Regions from separate parts of the Homo sapiens genome. Here region 1 is linked to region 2. Evidence: fine-mapped expression QTL. Tissue or cell type: blood mononuclear cells. Region 2 holds a variant in brackets; the other region holds the start of a gene. All regions are shown on one strand. Distances are between the middles of the regions.

Region 1 (8,096 bases), 24 kb before region 2:
GATTGCAGATGGAGTCTCGTTCACTCAGTGCTCAATGGTGCCCAGGCTGGAGTGCAGTGGCGTGATCTCGGCTCGCTGCAACCACCTCCCAGCCGCCTGCCTTGGCCTCCCGGAGAGCCGAGATTGCAGCCTCTGCCCGGCCGCCACCCCGTATGGGAAGTGAGGAGCGTCTCTGCTTGGCCACCCATCGTCTGGGATGTGAGGAGCCCCTCTGCCTGGCTGCCCAGTCTGGAAAGTGAGGAGCGTCTCTGCCCGGCCGCCATCCCATCTGGGAAGCGAGGAGCGCCTCTTCCCCGCCGCCATCCCATCTAGGAAGTGAGGAGCGTCTCTGCCCGGCCGCCCATCGTCTGAGATGTGGGGAGCACCTCTGCCCCGCCGCCCTGTCTGGGATGTGAGGAGCGCCTCTGCTGGGCCGCAGCCCTGTCTGGGAGGTGGGGAGCGTCTCTGCCCGGCTGCTCCGTCTGAGAAGTGAGGAAACCCTCTGCCTGGCAACCGCCCCGTCTGAGAAGTGAGGAGCCCCTCCGTCCGGCAACCACCCCGTCTGGGAAGTGAGGAGCGTCTCCGCCCAGCAGCCACCCCGTCCGGGAGGGAGGTGGGGGGGGTCAGCCCCCCGCCCGGCCAGCCGCCCCGTCCTGGAGGTGAGGGGCTCCTCTGCCCGGCCGCCCCTACTGGGAAGTGAGGAGCCCCTCTGCCCGGCCAGACGCCCCGTCCAGGAGGGAGGTGGGGGGGTCAGCCCCCCGCCCGGCCAGCCGCCCAGTCCGGGAGGGAGGTGGGGGGTCAGCCCCCCGCCCGGCCAGCCGCCCCGTCTGGGAGGGAGGTGGGGGGATCAGCCCCCCGCCTGGCCAGCCGCCCCATCCGGGAGGTGAGGGGCGCCTCTGCCCGGCCGCCCCTACTGGGAAGTGAGGAGCCCCTCTGCCCGGCCAGCCGCCCCGCCCGGGAGGGAGGTGGGGGGGTCATCCCCCCACCTGGCCAGCCGCCCCATCCGGGAGGGAGGTGGGGGGGTCAGCCCCCTGCCCGGCCAGCCGCCCCGTCCGGGAGGGGGGAGGGGGGGTCAGCCCCCTGCCCGGCCAGCCGCCCCGTCCGGGAGGGAGGTGGGGGGGGTCAGCCCCCCGCCTGGCCAGCCGCCCCGTCCGGGAGGGAGGTGGGGGGATCAGCCCCCCGCCTGGCCAGTCGCCCCGTCCGGGAGGTGAGGGGCGCCTCTGCCCGGCCGCCCCTACTGGAAAGTGAGGAGCCCCTCTGCCCGGCCAGCCGCCCCGTCCGGGAGGGAGGCGGGGTGGGGGGGGGGGGGTCGGCCAGCCGCCCCGTCCGGGAGGGAGGTGGGGGGGGTCAGCCCCCCTTCCGGCCGGCCGCCCCGTCCGGGAGGTGAGGGGCGCCTCTGCCCGGCCGCCCCTACTGGGAAGTGAGGACCCCTCTGCCCGGCCAGCCGCCCCGTCCGGGAGGGAGGTGGGGGGGACAGCCCCCCGCCCAGCCAGCCGCCCTATCCAGGAGGTGAGGGGCGCCTCTGCCCGGCCGTCCCTACTGGGAAGTGAGGAGCCCCTCTGCCTGGCCAGCCGCCCCGTCCGGGAGGGTGGTGGGGGGGTCAGCCCCCCGCCCGGCCAGCCGCCCCATCCGGGAGGTGAGGGGCGCTTCTGCCCGGCCGCCCCTACTGGGAAGTGAGGAGCCCCTCTGCCCGGCCACGACCCCGTCTGGGAGGTGTGCCCAGCGGCTCATTGGGGATGGGCCATGATGACAATGGCGGTTTTGTGGAATAGAAAGGCGGGAAGGGTGGGGAAAAAATTGAGAAATCGGATGGTTGCCGGGTCTCTGTGGATAGAAGTAGACATGGGAGACTTTTCATTTTGTTCTGTACTAAGAAAAATTCTTCTGCCTTGGGATCCTGTTGATCTGTGACCTTATCCCCAACCCTGTGCTCTCTGAAACATGTGCTGTGTCCACTCAGGGTTAAATGGATTAAGGGCGGTGCAAGATGTGCTTTGTTAAACAGATGCTTGAAGGCAGCATGCTCGTTAAGAGTCATCACCACTCCCTAATCTTAAGTACCCAGGGACACAAACACTGCGGAAGGCCAAGGCCGCAGGGTCCTCTGCCTAGGAAAACCAGAGACCTTTGTTCACTTGTTTATCTGCTGACCTTCCCTCCACTATTGTCCTATGACCCTGCCAAATCCCCCTCTGCGAGAAACACCCAAGAATGATCAATAAAAAAAAAATAAATAAATTAAAAAAAAAAAAGAAAAAAATTAACCTATCAAAATAAAATATCAGCAGTTGAAACTAACAATGTATTAATAACAATAATATTATGACCAAGTTGCGTCTACCCCAAGAATTCAAGAATGGTTTACCATTAGAAAGTTTATTGATGTAACTGATCTCATTAACAGATTAAAGGAGAATACCCATATGATCATCTTAATAGATGCACGAAAAGCATGCAATAAAATACCTATTTATTATAACTGCTAATATTTTGTGTTTTTCCTTAAAAATGCAGTGTTTTTAGGAATTAAAGTTCAGAGCAGCAAAAGTCAAACAAAAACCAAGTCTGAGCAATAGAGCTACTACAGTGCCCATCACAGTGTCTGCTCAGGTGACTTCTTAAGGTCATGTCCAGCTCTATGTTTCTGTGACCACAAATAGCATCTTTGGCAAGTCTAGTTTCAGTTGGTCTTTGTCCAGCTCCTGGATTCCTCCATGCAGGGCCTGAGAAGCCCTGAGGGATAAAAGATTAATCCGGTTCAGTGGACTCTGTGGTTCCTCAACTCCAAGTGCCCCCAGCATAAGTCGGACCTGCCTCTCACGCAATGGATCCCCTGGCGGCAACCCGAGACCGGTTCTCCTACCCGCATTCCGCCAAGTCTCTCGCTCTGCCCAGGACGCACAGATGAGAGCGCTCCGAAGACTGGTGGGTCTATCTTTCGGTCTTTCCTAATTTTCCCGTCCTCTGGGGAAAGGTCGGGGATACCTGAACCAAAGTGTGTGTGTGTGGGGGGGGGGGGGTGTAGGTGGGGCGTGCATAGATGTGCACAACCAAGGGCTTGGCCCTCCGGAGAACGCCCAGGGGCAGTGGCCTCCGAGGTTCTGGCGGCCGGCAGTGGCGACCGGCGCAGGGAATCGCGCAGGGTTGCGGCTGAGGTCAGACCAGCGAGAGACAGAGACCCGCAGACATTTAGTCCAGAGACTGTAGCAAAGGAGGGGGACGAGGGGCCAGAGCCGGAATTTCGGGGGAGGACTTGGGAGCGCGGCGACCAGAGTCGCTTGCTGGCACTTGCGAGGGCGAATGCAGGGGCTTGGCCGAGATGACCTTGGACCAGAGCTCCCTTCCGGCCTGCAGAGATGAGCTTGGGGCTTAGCCGAGTAAGGAGTGAGCGGCTTTTCAGCCTCAGTGCTGCGGCAGAGGCGGATGGAGGATGAACTGGAGCCGTCCTTACGGCCTCGGACGCAGGTGAGCTCCCAGCGGCGGCGACAAACCCCGCGGCGGTGACCCCAAACCCCCCCCCCGCGGCGGCGACTCCCCCCCAACACGCTGGGGCGAACTCCCCAGCACCCCCAGCCCTTCTTAAAAACGCTGAGTCCGCGCATGCGCCTCAGGCGCCCTCCGCGACACTCTAGCGGCTCTGCGCTTCACTGCGCCTGAGCTTGAGTCTCAGGCCTTAGTCCCGGCCATCGTTTAGCGTTGCGCGAACCCTCAGCTGGTGCGGCCGCTCTCAATACCCACTGCGCTTGCGCTACAGCTTCGTCTCGACGGGTTTGCTCCTCTCAAACGCTCACTGCGCGTGCGCTAGCGCCTCTTTCACCACTGGGCGCTGCGCGCTGCCCTTCCCTCCGCGCACAGGCTGCCGGCTCACCGCTTGCTAATGGCAGCCGGGGTCTCCCTGGGACAGCAAGACCTCCGCTCAGGCCCCTCTTTCGAATGCTCCACGCCCTCCTGCGATCTAGAATGGTATGAATTCTCATACTTGCCCAGACCAGGCGTTTCAGATGAGGGATTGCGGACCTGAGTGAACTGCGCAGGTGCAGCCACCTGGGAGGCTTAACTAAGTCGTCAAATGTTCAAAAATATCGTGCTTGTATGTACAGTGGCGTTAGGTGCTAGGCTCAGATGTGCATAGGCAGGTGTTTACGCCCAGGGTCGGCCTGTGGGCCAGAGCAAGGTTGCTGGACCCTGGCATCCCAGCCCCCAGAGATGCTAAATCCTCTGCCGATCAGCCCTGACCTCAGAGGCAGTAAGCCCTCCGAGCGCTGCAATCCTGACTGCTCGCCCCCTCCCGAGACTGTTTCCCACCCCCGCCTCTTTCCTCCTCATGCTCCCTCAGCTCTGACCTGACGTCCTGCCTCACAGAGGGAAAGGGCGCAGCCAGAGGAGAGCGCCCGCACTGCACTGCCCACCGCTTCTAGGGGTTCCTTCCCAATCTGGACTGATTTCTTTAGGTATTTGCATGGCACATTCCCTCACCTCCTTTGTCTTGATTTGCACTTGTATTCCTTGACAGCCTTATTTAAAATAGCACCAACTAAGGTGGGAGGATCGCCCAGGAGTTCGAAGCTGCAGGGATCTAATAGGATCTCACCACTGCACTCCAGCGTGGGCGACGTAGCGAGACCTTGTCTCTAAAAAATAAAAATAAAATAAAATAAAATAAAATAGCACCACCTGGTCCAAACACTTCCTACGCCCCTTCACTGCTTTAAGTCTCTGTAGCACCAGCTGATGTACTATATATTTTGCTTGTTCATTTTGCGATTGCTTGTCTTTCTCTGCTGGAAGGAAAGCTCTGACAGCTCATGGATTTTGTCTGTTGTTCACTGCTGTATCCCAACACCTAGAACAGTAGGATTATTGACCATAATAGGGAGGCAATAAATCTTTGTTTGCTGAATTAATGGTCCCTATCGTAGCTAATGTCTGAATGCTTACCATGACCAGGCACGGTATAGGCAATCTCCATGCATGATCTCATTGAATTCAACGATTTCCTGTAGTCTTAGAGACCTGTCAATATCTCCTGCTACATGAGCTCAGCTGCCATCAAGCACTGTGTTCGCTGCTTCCTTCACATCTGCTGTCTTAAGGGAGCTCTCACTTCCATGCGGCCCCCGTGGAGCTGTAATTTGGCCTCAATGGGACCAGATGCCAGGTTTCTCACCTGGCTTCTTCCTAAGGCTTCCAGCCTTAGAGAAAGTTACTTAGGCCTTATTGGAACTATGGGCAGCCAGGGCCCCTGTCACCAACCTGTCTCCAGACCTATGGCAAGGCCTTCAGCAGGATTCTGCCCTCCAGAGCCACTTCCTCTGCTCCCCCAGCCTCCAGTGCAGTATCTCACTGAATGGTGAAAGCACAGCTGTCTCTTTCCCAGCTGTATCTTGCCCCCCAGCACACTTCCTGGCTGAGATAAACATTCAGCATTTTTTTTTTTTTGAGATGGAGTCTCACTCTGTTGCCCAGGCAGGAGGGCAGTGGCGCGATCTGGGCTTACTGCAACCTCCGCCTCCCTCCCGGATTCAAGCAATTCTGCCTCAGCCTTCTGAGTAGCTGGGATTACAGGTGCCCACCACCAAGCCCGGCTAATTTTTGTATTTTTAGTAGAGACAGGGTTTTACCATGTTGGCCAGGCTGGTCTCGAACTCCTGACCTCAAGTGGTCTGCCCACCTCGGCCTCCCAAAGTGCAGGGATTGCAGGTGTGGGCCACGACATCCGGCCAACACTCAGTATTTGACTAATAAATGAATAAATAGTCCGTAGGTTCTGGAAACTTCAGAAAACCTTAGCCAAACATCCTTCTGTCATGAAAATTGTATCAAAGTTTTCAAAAATAATACATTTAATTCTACAGAACAATTTGCCAGAACAAGAAAGGCAGTATTTTTTGGGGGAAGATATCAACGATTCAATTTTTGTAAAGTCAACTACTTTGCAAATATCTAGGAAAATACCTGAGGGAAGGAGTTAATTGTTGTGCCTTTGGAGGAGTGGAGAACTTTCAGTATATACTGAATTTTCAAAAATCTTAACAAACGTGTCATTTTGTAATTAAAAATCACAAAAGAGTGGGCTGGGTATGGTGGCTCACGCCTGTAATCCTACCACTTTGGGAGGCCAAGGCGAGTGTATCGCTTGAGCTCAGGAGTTTGAAACCAGCCTGGGCAATATGGTGAAATCCCATCTCTACAAAAAAATTAGCCCAGCATGATGGTGTGTGCCTGTAGTCCCAGCTACTTGGGGGGCTGAGGTGGGAGGATCGCTTGAGCCCAGGAGGTTGAGGCTGCAGTGAATCAAGATTGCGACACTGCACTCCAGCCTGGGTGACAAAATGAGACCTTGTCTCAAAAAACAAAACAGAAAATCACCAAAGGAGAAAGATAAATACTTCTGTGAATCCCTAAGACGACCTCAACTACAGGTCGGGTGCGGTGGCTCACGTCTGTAATCTCAGCAATTTGGAGGCTGAGGTGGGCAGATCACTTGAGGTCAGGAGTCTCTACTAAAAATACAAAAATTAGCTGGGTGTGGTGGTGCATGCCTGCAATCCCAGCTACTCGGGAGGCTGAGGCAGGAGAATCGCTTGAACTGGGAGGCGGAGATTGCAGTGAGCCAAGATTGCGCCATTGCACTCCAGCCTGGGCGGCAGAGCAAAACTCCGTCTCTTTTTTTTTTTTGAGACGGAGTCTCACTCAACCTCCACCTCCTGGGTTCAAGCAGTTCTCTGCCTCAGCCTCCCGAGTAGCTGGGATTACAGACGCCTGCCAACACGCCCAGCTAATTTTTTTTTTTTTTTGAGACGGAGTCTCGCTCTGTCGCCCAGGCTGGAGTGCAGTGGCGCTATCTCGGCTCACTGCTAGCTCCGCCTCCCGGGTTCACACCATTCTCCTGCCTCAGCCTCCCCAGTAGCTGGGTCTACAGGTGCCCGCCACCACGCCTGGCTAATTTTTTGTATTTTTAGTAGAGGCGGGATTTCACCGTGTTAGCCAGGATGGTCTCAATCTCCTGACCTCGTGATCCGCCCGCCTCGGCCTCCCAAAGTGCTGGGATTACAGGCATGAGCCACTGCGCCCGGCCAATTTTTGTGTTTTTAGTAGAGATGGGGTTTCACCATCTTGGCCAGGTTGGTCTTAAACTTCTGACATTGTGATCCACCCGCCTCGGCCTCCCAAAGTGCTGGGATTACAGGTGTGAGCCACTGCGCCAGGCCAAGACTCAGTCTCAAAAAAAAAAAAAAAAAAAAAAAAAGAAAATCCCAACTATCCCAACTACAAAGGATGAGGCATCAGGGATGCCTTGGGGAATTCTCCCTCCATCTCTAAGGGTGTTTCACTGTCCTTTTGTGTACCAAGTGTGCATGACTCATGGGTACCCAGCCTAGAAGTAGGCTTCATTATCTGCAGGTCCAGGTAAGGAAGTCACTTAGGATGAGAAAGGAAGGGGAGAGCTGGGATAGGGACCAGGCACCTGGGCCATTTATGCTGCCTCTCTACTACTCATATGTCCCCAAGTCCTTGCACCTGCAGGTCCATGTGGCATCTTCTCTTAGCCTCATTGCAGAACATGCTGGTGGGAGGTAAGAGAGGTGGCTCAGCCCAGATTCCTGGAGCCTGGCCACTCTGTTGGAGAAGGTTTTCCTGGGGCAAGTCAGAGGCTCCTGTCCTGCTGGAGGCAGAGCCTTACTCTACTGGGGCCCCAGCTCAGGGGACTGTCTTCCCCAAACACAGCAGACGTGCTCAGGGGCAGCCCAACAAGGAGGGATGGGAACCGCTCTCCAGCTCAGGGAAATGTTGGGGCTATGGGTGGGGTGAGGGTAAAGTGGGGTCCTGGACTCAGAACAGGAGGCTTGGGTTCCTCTGCTACCTGCCAGCCATGTGACCCAGGTAACTCCTCTCTGTGCCTCACTTTCCTCATCTGCAAAGTGGAGACATCACTGCCTGATTCAAATAAATTGCAATGCTGTGATTGGCAGCTCTGGTCCAGGGAGGGGGTGGAGGCTGTTGTTGGTCACTCTGTGTTCTCTCCTCTCTCCTCAGATTCAGGGCAGGATCCTGCTCCTGACCATCTGCGCTGCCGGCATTGGTGGGACTTTTCAGTTTGGCTATAACCTCTCTAT
Region 2 (8,100 bases):
TCCCTCGTGCCATTAACATTCCATTGGCCAAAGCGAGTCAGTCATACTGCCAAATCCCAAGTCAAGGGATGGGAAAATTGATGGCATATCCTCTCCCATCGCAAGGGCTGTGGATTTAAGGAGGGGTGAAGACCGGGGCCCATTAGTGTACTCTTCTCTGTCACCATGGCCGCAATTATTACTTATGTCTCTCCTCTGTGCAAAATGTGTTCAGTCCCATCCCAGGATCCCCCAAAGTCTCATCCAATCATGGCATCGGGCTTGAAGTCCCAGATCTTACGCCACATTAAGTCTATATGGGCCTTTTCTTGATCCAGAAACCTAGGATCTAGAAAGATGAGTCTTCTTCCCTTCCCACACTCAGCATGCAATGGTAAAAAGTAAGATGAGGTAACCAAAATTAATGCTCTCATTTCAAAAACGAGGAAGCAAGGCAGGCACAGTGCAGTCACTAATCTATAACAATTCTGAAGCGCCCCTAGGAAAATATGGCCATGTCCCCTGCCTTGGGGGTAGGGAGTATTCTTTGTTCAAGTTCCAGCTCTGTCCCCTACCCCCTATGAAGGGCACCCCAGGCCATGGTTCTTTTATTTTTTTTATTTTTTTTATCTTTTAGAGACAGGTTCTCGCTTGTCCAGGCTGGAGTGCTGTGGCTGTTCATAGGCATGACGCCATTGTTGATCAGCACGGAAGTTTTCTTCTTTTTTGTTCTTGTTTTTTTGGTTTTGTTTGGGACAGGGTCTCACTCTGTCGCCCAGGCTGGAGTGGTGTGATCTCAGCTCACTGCAACCTCCACCTCCCAGGCCCAATCAATTCTCCCACCTCAGCCTCCTGAGTAGCTGGGACTACTGGCCCGTGCCACCACGCTTGGCTAATTTTTTTTTATTATTGTATTTTTTGTAAAGATGGAGTTTCACCTCTTTGCCTGGGCAGGTCTCAAACTCCTGAGATCAAATGATCCTCCCCCCTTGGCCTCCCAAAGTGCGTGGATTATAGGCATGAGCCATTGTATCTGGCTAGCATGGGAGTTTTGAACTGTCCCATTTCCAACCTGGGCCAGTGCATTCCTCCTTAGGCAGCCTGGTGGTCCCTGCTCCTGGGATGTCACTATATTGATGCTGAACTTAGTGCAGACACCTGATCTGCCTAGCGTACTACAACCCAGAGCTCCTGGGCCCAGGCGATCCTCCTGTCTCAGCCTCCTGAGTAGCTGGGACTCTAGGCACACACCACTATGCGTGGCTCTCCATGCTTCTTGGGTCTACCCTCTGAGATGTTTTTCCTTTTCTTTCACCTTCCTTGATTCCTTCTGAAGAGGGCGTTGCACAATGTGCTGCTTTTGATGGTTGAGCAAATTTCTCAGCCTCCTTCCTGCCTATAGAGAGTTGGGGCAGGCTGGGCGCCAGCTCACGCCTGTAATCCCAGGGAGGCTGAGGCGGGCAGATCACGAGGTCAAGACATCAAGACCAGCCTGGCCAACATGGTGAAACCCCATCTCTACTAACAATACAAAAATTAGCTGGGTATGGTGGCACGTACCTGTAGTCCCAGCTACTAGGGAGGCTGAGGCAGGAGAATTGCTTGAACCCGAGAGGCGGAGGTTGCAGTGGCAGGAGAATTGCTTGAACCCGAGAGGCGGAGGTTGCAGTGAGCCAAGATTGTGCCAGTGCACACTGCACTCCAGCCTGGTGACAGAGTGAGACTCCATCTCAAAAAAAAAAAAAAAAAAAAGAAAAGAAAAGAAAACAAAGTTGGGGCACAGAAGTCTTTATATTTCAAATTGTCCTGGTCTTTTTTTTGTCCAAACTGGCAGAGCTTTTGCCAATACAACTTTCTCAAAAATGATGTGAATTTTCTATGTATTCGAGGTTTTTTCATGTGTCAACAAACCACGCTCACAATTATTTTTGAGACAGGCTTCTCTCCCAAGGCCTAATTGCTGGTATTTAGGGTATGTCAGGCTACCGTGAATCAACGCCCTCAAGCCTCCTAAATGCCCCCTTTTCTAGTTGTGAGGGTCTGTGAGGCACTGCTTTAAGCTATACCCTTGATTTGATCTTTACTATGAGTCCATGGCTTCCTGGCAGTGCTCTGGATTTGATCTTTGCTCACAGGCTGTTACTTAATTTGGGATTCTTTTGCTAGCTGGAGAGGATAGAGGCGAGAAAACATTTTTTGTTGTTGTTTTCAACTAACCCAGTGTTTCTGAAATATGCTACGTTTAATTAAATTTTGTTGCCTCTGAATTCTGCTTGCAAACTGGCCAGTTATTTTCTGAGCTAATTCTTCATGTCTTACAGCAAGCTTAGAATATGCATCTAACAGCAACCAGTTCATGCTTTCAACATTTGGAGTTTTCTTTGCTCAAGTCCATAAGTTCACTGAGCCCATTTTCTTTCTTCCGTGTTACTGCACTATATAACATAGCTTTTCATTTCTCCAGCCTCATCGCCGTCCTCTGCCTCGTCTTGGAACTGATACCATATTTCACAGGTCTTTGTTACGGTAGCACCAACTCCTGGTGCCAATTTATTGATCAGCTTTCTATTGCTGACTAATAGATGATCATAACATCTCGGTGGTAAAGAAACAAAAAAAGCAATTATTTAGCCTAAGCCTCTAAGTCCTCTGGGCTGGGCTGATCTAGGATGGTTCTGGCTGATGGCTCTGCTGATCTTGGTCATTCCTGCAACTGCAGCTCAGCTGGGCATTGGCTGGCTGATCTAGAATAGTCCCAGTGAGGGTGGCTTAGCTGGGCCCCTTTGGCTGTCCATGTCTTGTCATCCTCCTGGCTAGCCTGGAATGTTCTCATGAAGGCAGAAGAGCAAGTAGAAGTGAGCAAGGCCTCTTAAGGCTTAGGCTGGAACATGGTACGCCCTCACTGCAGCCTCATCCTATTGGCCGAGCCCAGAGCCAGGAGCAGGGATGTAGGCAGTACTTGCCCCTTTAGTGGGAGGAACTGCAAAATCACACAGCAAGCAGTGTGGGTGCAGGGAGGGGTGAAGAATTGGGTTTGATAATGTGCTGCAATAGTCATGTCCTGTCTGATATGTCCGCAGAACCCTGCGTTTCTTTCTAAAGCCTTTTTTCATCCATGGTGGCAACACCGCAACAGCCCTGAGAAATGTCAGGGCAAGGAAGATCATCTCCATCTGACCAGGGAGGCAAACAGAGACAGAGAGATTGAGAGAGACAGAGGCAGAGAGAGAGAAACACACACACACACAGACAGACACAGAGACAGAGAGATTGAGAGAGACAGAGGCAGAGAGAGAGAGAAACACACACACACACAGACACAGAGACAGAGAGATTGAGAGAGACAGAGGCAGAGAGAGAGAAACACACACACACACAGACACAGAGACAGAGAGATTGAGAGAGACAGAGGCAGAGAGAGAGAGAAACACACACACACACACACACACAGAGACAGAGAGATTGAGAGAGACAGAGGCAGAGAGAGAGAGAAACACACACACAGACACAGAGACAGAGAGATTGAGAGGCAGAGAGAGAAACACACACACACACAGAGACACACACAGAGACAGAGAGATTGAGAAAGACAGGCAGAGAGAGAGAGAAACACACACACACAGACACAGAGACAGAGAGATTGAGAGAGACAGAGGCAGAGAGAGAGAGAAACACACACACACACACAGACACAGAGACAGAGAGATTGAGAGGCAGAGAGAGAAACACACACACACACAGAGACACACACAGAGACAGAGAGATTGAGAGAGACAGAGGCAGAGAGAGAGACACACACACACACAGACAGACTCAGAGACAGAGAGTGAGCCAAGAAGGAAAGGAATGGTGGGATGGAGGGGGGCGTCCCTGTAGGGGGACCAAAGAGGGGCTTGGGGACGGGGAGCTCAGTACCCTCCTCCCTGGCTCAGCACTACGGCGGCTCCGGGGCTCCGGGGACTTGGCAGGGGAGCTGGAGGAGCTGGAGGAGGAGCGCGCTGCCTGCCAGGGCTGCCGTGCCCGGCGCCCATGGGAGCTGTTCCAGCATCGGGCCCTGAGGAGACAGGTGACAAGCCTCGTGGTTCTGGGCAGTGCCATGGAGCTCTGCGGGAATGACTCGGTGAGACCCCTGCCCCGCCGCACACCCTGGGCCCCGGGGGCTTGGTGTTGCAGGCCGCTGGGAGCCATGGGAGGTGGAAGGGAGCCCAGGCCTGAAAGCCACCCTCTCCCAGGTGTACGCCTACGCCTCCTCCGTGTTCC[G/A]GAAGGCAGGAGTGCCGGAAGCGAAGATCCAGTACGCGATCATCGGGACTGGGAGCTGCGAGCTGCTCACGGCGGTTGTTAGTGTGAGTCTGGAGGGTGCCCTTCCTCCACCAGCCCTGTGGGGAGGGACCCCCAGGTCCTCTGCATTAAACCAGTTTACACTCCAGCTTATGGTGTTAAAATGCAGTGAGGGGCCAGGTGCGGTGGCTCATGCCTGTAAGCCCAGCACTTTGGGAGGCCGAGGTGGGTGGATCACAAGGTCAGGAGTTCGAGACCAGCCTGGCCAACACAGTGAAACCCCCGTCTCTACTAAAAAATACAAAAAATTATCCCGGCGTGGTGGCGGGCGCCTGTAATCCCAGGTACTTGGGAGGCTGAGGCAGGAGAATCGCATGAACCCAGTAGGTGGAGGTTGCAGTGAGCCGAGATGGTGCCATTGCACTCCAGCCCAGGCAATAGTGCTGAGGTGGGATCAGGAGTTGGAGACCAGCCTGGGCAACATGGTGAAACCCCGTCTCTACAAAAAATACAAAAATTAGCCAGGCGTGGTGGTCTTCGCCTGTAGTGCTAGCTACTGGCGAGGCTGAGGTGGGAGGATCACTTGAGCCTAGGAGGTTGAGACTGCAGTAAACCGAGATTGTGCCACTGCACTCCAGCGTGGGCTGGACCAGTGAGACCCTGTCTCAGCTCAGTGAGACCAGTAAGACCCTGTCTCAATCAATCAATCAATGCAGTGAGTTAGAGAGCATCTATTGAGCATCTACGGTTTGCGGGTCACTTCCAGCACCATTTTGAGATGCGGAAACTGGCTGAAGTTGGGTGATTGATTGACCAAGTTCCTTTGGGAAATTAATAAAGTCACACTGAAGCAATAAACTACCCTCACCTCCACCACCAGCTTTCTCAGGAGACCCCTTCCCATTGCCTGCCCCAGACCTCAGGGACCATGGCTGGGTGTGTGGGTCTGTGCTTTCTGCCTTTGCAGTGTGTGGTAATCGAGAGGGTGGGTCGGCGCGTGCTGCTCATCGGTGGGTACAGCCTGATGACCTGCTGGGGGAGCATCTTCACTGTGGCCCTGTGCCTGCAGGTAGCTGGGGTGGATGAGGGCTGGGGGGTCCAGGCCGGGCTGACTTCCACCTCACCCCCGCCCCGTCCACGGCAGAGCTCCTTCCCCTGGACACTCTACCTGGCCATGGCCTGCATCTTTGCCTTCATCCTCAGCTTTGGCATTGGCCCTGGTGAGTGGGCCCAAGGGGCTCTGGGCATCCATCATCACATAGAAGGAGTGATGGGTGCCTGGGTGCACAGTGGGTGGGTGTGAATGCAATGTCCCCTGCAGGCCCTCAGAGACCACCTCATGCCGGGGCTTCTGGGAGGGAATGGCAGGAGGAGAGCACTGAGGGGCCCCCCATACAGACTGGGCCTGGGCTCCCACTCCCATGTCTGGGCTGGGGTCGGGGAGAGGCAGGCAGGGAACCCTGGCCAGCAGCCCCCTGTCCCTGCCCCTCCTTCTAGCCGGAGTGACGGGGATCCTGGCCACAGAGCTGTTTGACCAGATGGCCAGGCCTGCTGCCTGCATGGTCTGCGGGGCGCTCATGTGGATCATGCTCATCCTGGTCGGCCTGGGATTTCCCTTTATCATGGTAGGCCCGCCCCTCCCGCTGGGGGCCCTGCCTTAGGCTGTGTCCCTGTCATCCTGAGAACCCCAGGGGGAGGCTTCCATCCAGGGAGACTGAGACTGAAAGGGAGGGGTCTTAGGGGAGCAAAGAGGGGGGCAAATGCCTCCTCACGACCTGTCATGGGCCTTCTGTTTAGGGGTTGATGGAGACACACCAGGTCTTGGGGTCTTTTTTAATCCGCAGGAGGCCTTGTCCCACTTCCTCTATGTCCCTTTCCTTGGTGTCTGTGTCTGTGGGGCCATCTACACTGGCCTGTTCCTTCCTGAGACCAAAGGCAAGACCTTCCAAGAGATCTCCAAGGAATTACACAGACTCAACTTCCCCAGGCGGGCCCAGGGCCCCACGTGGAGGAGCCTGGAGGTTATCCAGTCAACAGAACTCTAGTCCCAAAGGGGTGGCCAGAGCCAAAGCCAGCTACTGTCCTGTCCTCTGCTTCCTGCCAGGGCCCTGGTCCTCACTCCCTCCTGCATTCCTCATTTAAGGAGTGTTTATTGAGCACCCTTTGTGTGCAGACATGGCTCCAGGTGCTTAGCAATCAATGGTGAGCGTGGTATTCCAGGCTAAAGGTAATTAACTGACAGAAAATCAGTAACAACATAATTACAGGCTGGTTGTGGCAGCTCATGACTGTAATCCCAGCACTTTGGGAGGCCAAGGTGGGAGGATCAATTGAGGCCAGAGTTTGAAACCAGCCTAGGTAACATAGTGAGACCCCCTATCTCTACAAAAAATTTTAAACATTAGCTGGGCATGGTGGTATGTGCTAACAGCTCTAGCTACTCAGGAGGCTGAGGCAGCAGGATCACTTGAGTCCAAGAGTTCAAGGTAGCAGTAAGCTACAATCACACCACTGCATGCCAGACTGGGTGACAGAGGGAGACTTCATCTCTTTAAAACATAATAATAATAATTACAGACTCAGGAAATGCAGTGAAAGAAAAATACAGGTTGGCCAGGTGAGGTGGCTGATGCCTGTAATCCCAGCACTTTGGGAGGCCAAGATGGGAAGATTGCTTTGAGACCAGAAGTTTGAGACCAGCCTGGGCCACATAGTAAGATCCTGTTTCTACCAAAAAAAAAAAAAAAAAAAATTAGCTGGGTGTGGTGGTACATGCCTGTGGTCCCAGCTACTCAGGAGGCTGAAATGGGAGGATCACTTGAGCCTGGGAGGTCGAGGCTGCAGTGAGTCCTAATTGAGCCACTGCACTCCAGCCTGGACAACAGAAAGAGACCATGTTTCAAAAAAAATAAATACAGGTTGTAGTGGGTATGGGTATGCATACCAGGAGGCCCGACCTCGTCTGAGAGGGGAGTGGTCAGAAAAGAATTTTCTGAGGAATTGATGTTTTTAATCAACTTTATTGAGGTATAATTTATACATAACCAACTGCATCCATTTTAAGTATATATTTGGCGAGTTTTGAGTTCTAAGTATAGTTTTGGTGAGTGTATACACTTGGGAAACACCACCGTGATCAAGATGGAACCTTTACCCTACCCCAAGGCACCCACATGCCCATTTGCTATCAGTAACCCACCCCAGTCCCAGACCTGGGGAACCACTGACCTGCTTTCTGCCTCAATTGGTCAGATTTGCCTTTTTTCAGAATCTGAAGTCATTCCGTACTGTATGTACACATTTGTGTCTGGCTTGGCTCCAGATAAAGTTTTTGGGATTCATGAATGTTGTTGCACGTATTAGGAGAGACTCCTTTGTATTGCTGAGTAGTATTCCCCTCTGTGGTTAGACCATGATTTATTTATCCATCTACCTGTTGGTGAACATTTTGGCTGTTTCTAATTCTTGGCCATCATGAATAAAACTGCTGTGAATGTTCCTACAATAATAATTGTCTAAACATATGTTTTTATTTCTTTTGTGTCTTAGTCCGTCGGGCTGCTATAACTAAGAACCACAGCCTGGGTGGCTTATAAACAACAGAAATTTATTTTTCATGGTTCTGGAGGCTGGGAAGTCCAAGATCAAGGTGCCAGTGGATTCAGTGTCTGTTGAGGGCCCATGTCTTGATTCATAGATGGCGGTCTTCTTGCTGTGTTCTCCTAGACATGGCAGAAGGGGCAAGGGAGCTCTCTGGGGTCTCTTTTATAAGGGCACCAATCCCATTCATGCAGGCTCTGCCCTCATGACCTAATCACCTCCGAGGAGGCCCAAAGGCCCTAC

Evidence for each region. PIP is the estimated chance that this variant, and not a neighbour inherited with it, causes the effect.
Region 1: it holds the start of SLC2A11, and the variant in region 2 is fine-mapped to the expression of SLC2A11 in blood mononuclear cells (TOPMed, PIP above 0.99).

The regions. Positions count from the first base shown.
Region 1 is chr22:23,854,088-23,862,183 of GRCh38, forward strand. SLC2A11 (solute carrier family 2 member 11) reads left to right here and starts at 3,788. Exons shown (of 12, transcript NM_001024939.4): 1 at 3,788-3,942; 2 at 8,017-8,096. The coding sequence starts at 3,913.
Region 2 is chr22:23,878,548-23,886,647 of GRCh38, forward strand. SLC2A11 (solute carrier family 2 member 11) reads left to right here. Exons shown (of 12, transcript NM_001024939.4): 7 at 3,912-4,099; 8 at 4,212-4,322; 9 at 5,225-5,326; 10 at 5,402-5,477; 11 at 5,755-5,882; 12 at 6,102-7,765. The coding sequence ends at 6,302. It also overlaps the pseudogene RN7SL268P. Among named protein-coding and RNA genes, the nearest start is that of MIF, 12 kb to the right of the region's middle. The variant G/A (reference allele first, on the strand shown) is at 4,240.